Homo sapiens: one gene and its partner. The protein of the gene in region 1 interacts with the protein of each later gene in a pairwise test. Each region holds a gene or a part of one and is shown on either strand. Other genes may lie near its edges.

What was found. The genes of interacting proteins can lie anywhere in the genome.
Region 2: the proteins of ACOT7 (region 1) and DCTD interact in binary tests that used the Homo sapiens proteins (3 or more experiments, as listed by UniProt).

Annotation. Positions count from the first base shown.
Region 1 is NC_000001.11:6,268,052-6,271,800, forward strand, and holds part of ACOT7 (cytosolic acyl coenzyme A thioester hydrolase), read right to left. Parts: intron 1-3,749. UniProt on the Homo sapiens protein: Catalyzes the hydrolysis of acyl-CoAs into free fatty acids and coenzyme A (CoASH), regulating their respective intracellular levels.
Region 2 is NC_000004.12:182,896,723-182,900,471, forward strand, and holds part of DCTD (deoxycytidylate deaminase), read right to left. Parts: intron 1-3,749. UniProt on the Homo sapiens protein: Catalyzes the deamination of dCMP to dUMP, providing the nucleoside monophosphate substrate for the thymidylate synthase/TYMS.

The DNA of each region.
Region 1 (3,749 bases):
GAGGCAGAAAGTGGATTGGCGGTTGCCTGGGGCTGGGGGACCAGTGGTGGCTAAGGGGTGGTGCTTCTTTTTGGTGAGATAAAAGGTTTTGAAATAGACTGTGGCGGGGGATGTCCACCTCTGTGAATAGAAGAAAACCTGCTGAATCGTATCCTGGAAGTGGGTGAACAGAACGGCATGTAATTACATCTCAGTAAAGCTGTTAAAAGAGAAAACCTCCACAGTTGAGAGCTCTCTGTGGTGGGGGAGTAGTCAGGGCTGTCAACGCATAAGACTGGCCCTGAGCTAATAACTACACAGGAATTCTTTCTTCTCTTTACTTTTGCGTATATTTGACCTTTTCTATAATTAAAAAGCTAGAAAAGCAAAAAACTAACTAGACCTAGATCTAGGAAAACCAGCCCCTCCTTTCTTCCCTAGGCACCAATGATCTCCAGGCCCCAAAGAGACGGGGACTTGGCTTTACAAGCGGTGGGCTGCGGGCAGAGCTGAGGGAGCCGTCTGGGCTGTGCACAGGCGCGATTTTCCCCACTCCCCGCCAAGAGGCGCTAAGAGCTAACTCAGGACCATGCTCCTTCTGGTCCAGTTCATAGGTGTGTGATGGGCCCCAGGCCCCACGCACGCGGCACGGCCCGAACGGCAGGGAGATCTCCGCCCAAGAGCGAGAAAACCTCCAGGGCTTCATACAGCCCGGTCCTCACCTCTGCCAGCCACACGCAGCAGTGGAGCGGAGCCCTCGAGTCCCCTAACGATCTGGCCTCCATGACCACCTGGGAGTGGAATAGGAGTAACTTCCTACAGCTCTCGGCATCTTTACCAGAGATGTGACCACAGCCCTCCAGCCGCCGAGGGCGTGGGAGGACCACCCAACTCTGGGTCTGCAGAAGGCACTGCAGACGAGAGCCCTCCCACCCCTTTGCCCCCACATGGGCTGTGCACGTGGGGCAGGGACTACAGCGATAAGGGGATATTCCCTGCGCAACCCATGCTTAGGGCGCGGCAGGCTGTGCACATCAGGGTCTTCCCAACAACCCCACCAAGCAGCACAGAAATGATTGTCCACTTTTACCAATGAGGAAGTGAAGCACAGACAGGCTGAGTAACTTGCCCAAAGTGACACAGCGGGTAAGGGGAGAGCCTCCATTTAAACCTGGGCATGGGGGCTGCCCTCCAGGTCGTCCTATGCCGAGGGACTTTTAGGGGTGGGACTCGTCCATGGGAAGTGAGGAAGGCGATGGACCTGCAGCGTGTCCACGATGAACCAGGGTCAGGGGCTTCCCTGCCTCCCCTCACCTCACCCCGGCCCTCGGCACAGCCTAGGAGCACTTGCTGAGCTTGGCCTCCCCCAGGCGGGGGCCCTGCCCTGCCCTCAGCCATATTATCCCAAACCACTACAGCTGCTCCCACCCCAGCGGCCACCAGGCCATCGAGCATTCCCAATGCCACAGGCCGAGGGCTGTGACTGCTTCTCTCGAGGTCAGTTAATACACAGCCTGAGGCGGGCACGAGCCCAGGTGCAGGTCATTCTCAGGGTCGGCTCCAGGCTGAGGGAGAATCTGGTGCCCAGCAACGGGCCCCAAGGCGGCTCTGATGTGGCCCTGCTCTTTAATATTTGCAGCAAACTCATCAGCCAGGCTCTGCCCTCAGACAAAGCAAATGCTGTCTGATGATGGATGGATGTGTGGGAGCCTGAGAGCCTGTGAGGGCCCCACTGCTCTTCCCGTCTCCCGGGATGGTAGTATCTGCTGGATGTTCCAGGCTCTGAGACAGAGTCCAGACCAGCCCAGGAGCCTCAACGTCACTGCGTGGAGTGCCCGCCCATAAGCGCTGCCCTCCCAAGGTGCGGGCGGCCTTCCTCCCTGAGTGCCCAGGGGCGCCCTTCCAGGGTGAAGGTTTATGAAGATGGCAGTCAAGGGCAGGGATGTCCCAGGTGCCTGAGGACCCAGGCTCACCACCCAGGGGGAGGTGGAACAAAGGGCCGCGGGGCGGTGTCTGTCCCATGGTAGGTTACGGGCTCACTGCTGGTGGGCAGCCAGCCTCCCCAGGTCATGGCTTTGCTAAATAGTTCTCCTACCCAAGTGACAAAGGGGCCACCCTGTCCCGCTGGGTGAGAAGCTGACAGAGCAAGACAGATGTCTCCAGCACAAGGCCCCACCCACGGCCCGGCTGCTGCCTCCTCGCAGCCATCTCCCTCCACCCAGCAAAGTAAATAAATGCATACGCTGTTGGCTGTTGCTGTTTTTAATGGAGGGTTGGGGGTGGGTGGAGGACGAAAGAACGCTCTGCGGGAAGACAGATGTCTCTCTCAAGTCCCCGAGGCTGCTGGTGGGGGAAGGACTGGAGCCTCTGGGGCACTGGCCAGTGGTGCCAGCTGCCGGGCACCCACCTGTGGCCTCAGGCAGGCTCCTCCGAGCCTCTGGGGCTCCCCAAGAATATGCCAGAGAGAAAGGATGAGGTGGCAAAGGGCAGCTCAGGGCACATGACCCCCATGTATCCCGGGCACCTGCCTGATGGAAGGGATGGGGCAGCATGGCCAGGAGCAGGACTCTGAGTCCCACGGGCCCAGCTGTGTGGCCCAGGGCCAGGTTTGTTCACCTGGAAACAGGAACTCAACAAAGTGACATGGCAAAGTGCTTCCTATGGTGCCGGTGCACGTGAGCTCCTACGTGTGTGTGCACATGTGTCTGCGGTCCCTGGTGCATGTGTGTGTGTCTGTGTGGTGGTCCTGCTGTCCTCAGAAATACCTGAGGCCAAGTGCAGCCTGGGAACTGCTCCAAGGACTGTCCTGCTGGTGTGTGGCTGCCCCAAAGGAGGGCCAGATGGCCCGGGGTCACCTTAACGCAGCGGGCCCTTTAGGATGTCACACCCACACATGGGGACGCAGGGGTGGGGAGGGTCCCAAGGTAGCAGGTTGACAGTACGCTCCCTCCCTGGTGCTCAGGGAGCACCGCCTGGCACTCAGCACCAAGCCCCTGGCTCCCCTGCAGCCTAGTGGCTGCCTGGGCCTGGGGTCTGCATCTTTTTCCTCCCTCCACTTAGTGCTTCCTGCCACTGCTGTCTTCTGGGCTCTCTTCCACTGGAGGGGAAGCCTGTGGCTTTCAGAGCCAAGTGCTGCAAACCAAATGTTTTCCACTTTGCATTTTCTGTGCTTGGAGAACACACATTTGGAACATGGTATGGAGGACGAGTGACTAAGTTCCACCCTCGGTAAAATCAATAGCTTGTCCTTTTTGTAATTAATGAATGGCGTAAAAAGGGTTTCCAGTGGTGATATAACAACTTCCTGTAAGCCTGAGGGACACAGACCTTCTTAATTAGGAAGCCACGTAGCATGCCCTCTCCCTGTTATAACAGGAGACAAGAGGGGTCTTGGGATAATCACAAAAGCAATGAAAACATCTCATTATTGAGGACACTCAGCACGGCCGGGCGAGGGGCCTTGTGCATGGAGAAGCCAGCAATGATGAGCTTAGCACCAGGACCACCAGCCTCACAAGCACCTGTGCCCCCAGGGTCTTGCTCCACCTGAGGACCTTGCCTTAGCGGAGCCTGTCCGCCATCCGCTGTGGCCTCTCCGCCATCCGCTGTGGCCTCTCCCAGCAGCTGCAGGCCTGGGTTAATTACCTCCTCCTCCACACCCACCCAGGACTGCACCAGCCTCCAGCAGAAAGCAGCCGGAAGTCTCAAATAATGAGATCATTGTGGAGAGTCATAAACACCCTCACCAGGGGCTCCCCTCACCCAGCAGC
Region 2 (3,749 bases), on another chromosome or scaffold:
GCTTGGTGTTAAAAACAATTACATGTAATTGTTTCTTTTATTTCCCCCTTGAGGGCAGAGCCCAGCCTAGGTTCTTTGTAACTCCCCCAGAGTCTAATGTGATGCCATGAACATAATGGGTGTTAAATATTTATCGAATGAATAAAGGAGGAAATGCAGATTCCAATTATTGATGGTGACGTTCGGAAGTACTGGAAGTCCTCTTAAATTCAAATATCAGAAATATGCTCTCCCATCTAATAAATACTTTTGGATGGTGCTGGTATTAATATTCAGAACTGCAGAGCCTCTGCATCTGTTATGAAACACTATGATAGCGTCCTCTAAGAACTGTCACGCTCACTGCCATGAGCTTCCTCTACTTCATCCCAGGCAGTTTGGGGCAAAATTTAACAGTATAGGTCTGGATTCATTAGTGAAAATTACCATATGAAACAGATTCTCTTGGGCAGCATCTGACATCCCTGTGTACAGAGGGCGATTTATAGAAATAATGCACAGCATTATAAACAGACTTCCTTTCTTTTAACCAAAAAATCACAAGATGAAGAATGTAAAGCTTCTTGTTAAAAAATATATATATATGAATATTAATATTAAAAATAAATATTAAATATATATCATATCTGAATATTAATACCAGCACCATCAAAAAGTATTTATTAGATGGGAGAGCATATTTCTGATATTTGAATTTAAGAGGACTTTCAGTACTTCCCAACATCACCATGAATAACTGGAATCTGCATTTCCTCCTTTATTCATTTGATAAATATTTAGCACCCATATATATATATATATATTTACATATATATAAAGCTACTGGGCAATATGAACAGTAGTGTGTCGGGTACACATGAGACTCTAAAAGGAACAATCCAAAATCCCACATACGCAAAAGTGGACACTGACAAGCAGGAAACTCAAGTGTTCGGTGGAGGGTGTAAGATCAGCCCCACCCTGGTCTCTCTTGCTGGTTCCCGTACCCTTCCCCAGACCCCCTCAGCCCTGTCTTATGATCACAGGCTTGCCCGACCCGCACCTGCGGGGCTGAGGAGAGAAGCCCCAACCCAGAGGAGCACCTGAGGCCGCAACCCAGCCCTGCCCCCTTCGTAACTCCCAGCTGCCGCCTGTTGTGGTCCTGAAATCCAGCTTCACCTTTGTGGCTGACACTCGTCTATCAGCTCCAGGATCTCCATAGCCCTGAAACTCTGAACCTTGCTGTCCCCCAGGCCGCCCTGTACCTCCTTTTGGGCCTGTCCTGAGGAGACAGGACTCAGCCAGGCCTCAGCCCCCAGACTGTCCTCAGAGAGGAAACTAGGGAAACTAACTTGATGACTTCCTCCAATTTGTTTAAAGCAGGTGGGTCAGAGTAAAGTTTGGGGATTCATTTACTTGTGTCGACTGGCCATCGACACTGATCAAATAACAGGCACCTGCCAAATCCACTTCAGGCCACAAAGAGCACTCGATGACTGCCTGGCCTGTGACGAGCTCATGCCTGCCCTGGCTGGCCAGACCACCACAGGCCAAGCATCCTCCCCTCTGTACTCTCCACCTCTGCCAGCGAGTGTGGACAAAGAGCTTTGCAACAAGGGCAGCACGAGGGCTCAAGGTCCAATTTGCTGCTTGGAAGCCGGATGACCTTCGACAGGGTGGCTGAGCGCTCTTGTAATTTGCAGGAGTGACAGTGGATCTGAGAAAGTGCATTTCCAGCTAACTAAATAAAAGCAATTTAAAAAATACCAAGTACATCCGATGTCTTTGCTTTTTTCCTAAGGTTTCCAGTTTCATTCCTCAATCCTCCAGAACAGGTGACTTTCTCTAAAACAAGCTTTCACTATCAAAACACGGCCTCCTCTCCCCAGGCAAACACAAGGCCGTGCTCCCAGCCCCTTCCTCCCTCCATCTCTGAGGGCTCCCGCTTCTCTCTGCTCGTTTTTCTTCTCCTGTAAGCATGCATACTTAGTCCTTAGTCTAGAGAGGTCATCTTGTCAGCCTTTTAGGATTCTTTTTTTCCTCCTTTCAAGATGAAATCATCCTATCTACAATTGTTACTATAATTTATTTTTAAAATAATTGTCTTCTGACTTTGTAAGGCATACATAATCCCCAGTTTTCTCTAAAATAATGTTTTTCAAACTGCAGGTCATGAAATCAGTTCAATGAGTTACACCAGCTTTTTCTTCTGTTTTAATGAAATAGGTAAGAAGGGAAGGATAGAGGTCAGAATGGATCCCGCATACAAGGTTAAATACTATTCCTAAAAATTATGTTTCAGGTGTCAACTGTGTTTGCTGGGTCACCATATATCTGCCAATTTCCGTGGTGTAGACATTTTTTCACACAGCCAATCTCCCACTCCCAACATGACGTGTACTTGGGAAGCAATGCGCACAGTTGGCTCTGATGACCTGATGAGAGCCAGCTCCACAGGCCACAGGAGGGTCTCGTCATCATGAAAACCCAAGGTCTCTTCTGGCCTGGAACCTTTTGATTCACCTGCTCTCTTTGGACTCCTCTCTATTCTAAAACCTCTCAGGACCACCATACACTTGTGTTCTCTTTCTGCTTTACTTTTCTGTAGGTCCTTTTATTTTTCCTGCCTTTGTGGGCACTTCCCAAGGTAAAATATTGGTCTTTGATTTTTCTCCCATAGTCACTGCCCTTTTTTTTCTTTTTCTTTTTTTTTTAGATGGAGTTTTGCTCTTGTTGTCCAGGCTGGAGTGCAATGACGTGATCTCGGCTCACTGCAACCTCTGCCTACCAGTTTCAAGCGATGATTCTCCTGCCTCAGCCTCCCGAGTAGCTGGGATTACAGGCACCCGTCACCATGCCCAGCTAATTCTTGTATTTTTAGTAGAAACAGGGTTTCGCTATGTTGGCCAGGCTGGTCTGGAACTCCTGACCTCAGGTGATCCACCTGCCTCGGCCTCCAAAAGTGCTGGGATTACAGGCATGAGCCACCGCGCCCGGCCAGTCACTGACCTTAAGAATCCATCTGTTCATAGATTCTCAGATGCCAGATCCATCTGTAAAACCTGAAATCTGGTGTCTAGCCATAACTGCCCATCTTCTCCCCAGGCCTTTTCTTTTGGGTGGTCTGGGGCTTCCATGTACCTTTCCTCTATGGGTTAAATATCTCTTATCCAAAATGCTTAGGAGCAGAATTGTTTCAGATTTCAGATTTTAAAATGTTTGCATTATACTTACCAGGTGAGCATCCCAAATCCAAACATTTGAAATCCAGAGTGCTCCATGAGCATTTCCTTCAAGTGTCATGCTGGTGTGCAAAAGGTTTCAGATTTTGGGCCAGGTGCAGTAGTTCATGCCTGTAATCCCAGCACTTTGGGAGGCCAAGTGGGGGAGATCGTTTGAGCTCAAGAGTTCAAGAACAGCTTAGGCAACATAGTGACAGCTCATCTCTACTGAAAATAAAAAAACTTAGCCAGGTATGGTGGCGTGCACCTGTAGTCCTAGCTACTTGGGAGGCTGAGGTGGGAGGACTGCTTGAGCCCAGGAGGTCAAGGCTGCAGTGAGCTGTGTTTGCACCACTGTACTCCAGTCTGGGCAACAGAGCAAGACCCCATCTCAGAAAAAAAAAAAAGTTTCAGATTTTGATTTTTGGATTTGGCATGCTCAACCTGTACAATAAACATTCCACAGATATTTGACAGCAATAAATGAAGGAATAAATTTACCTTTCCCTAGAGTGCACATTTTTGTTGTGTTGCCTGGATGAACTGCAG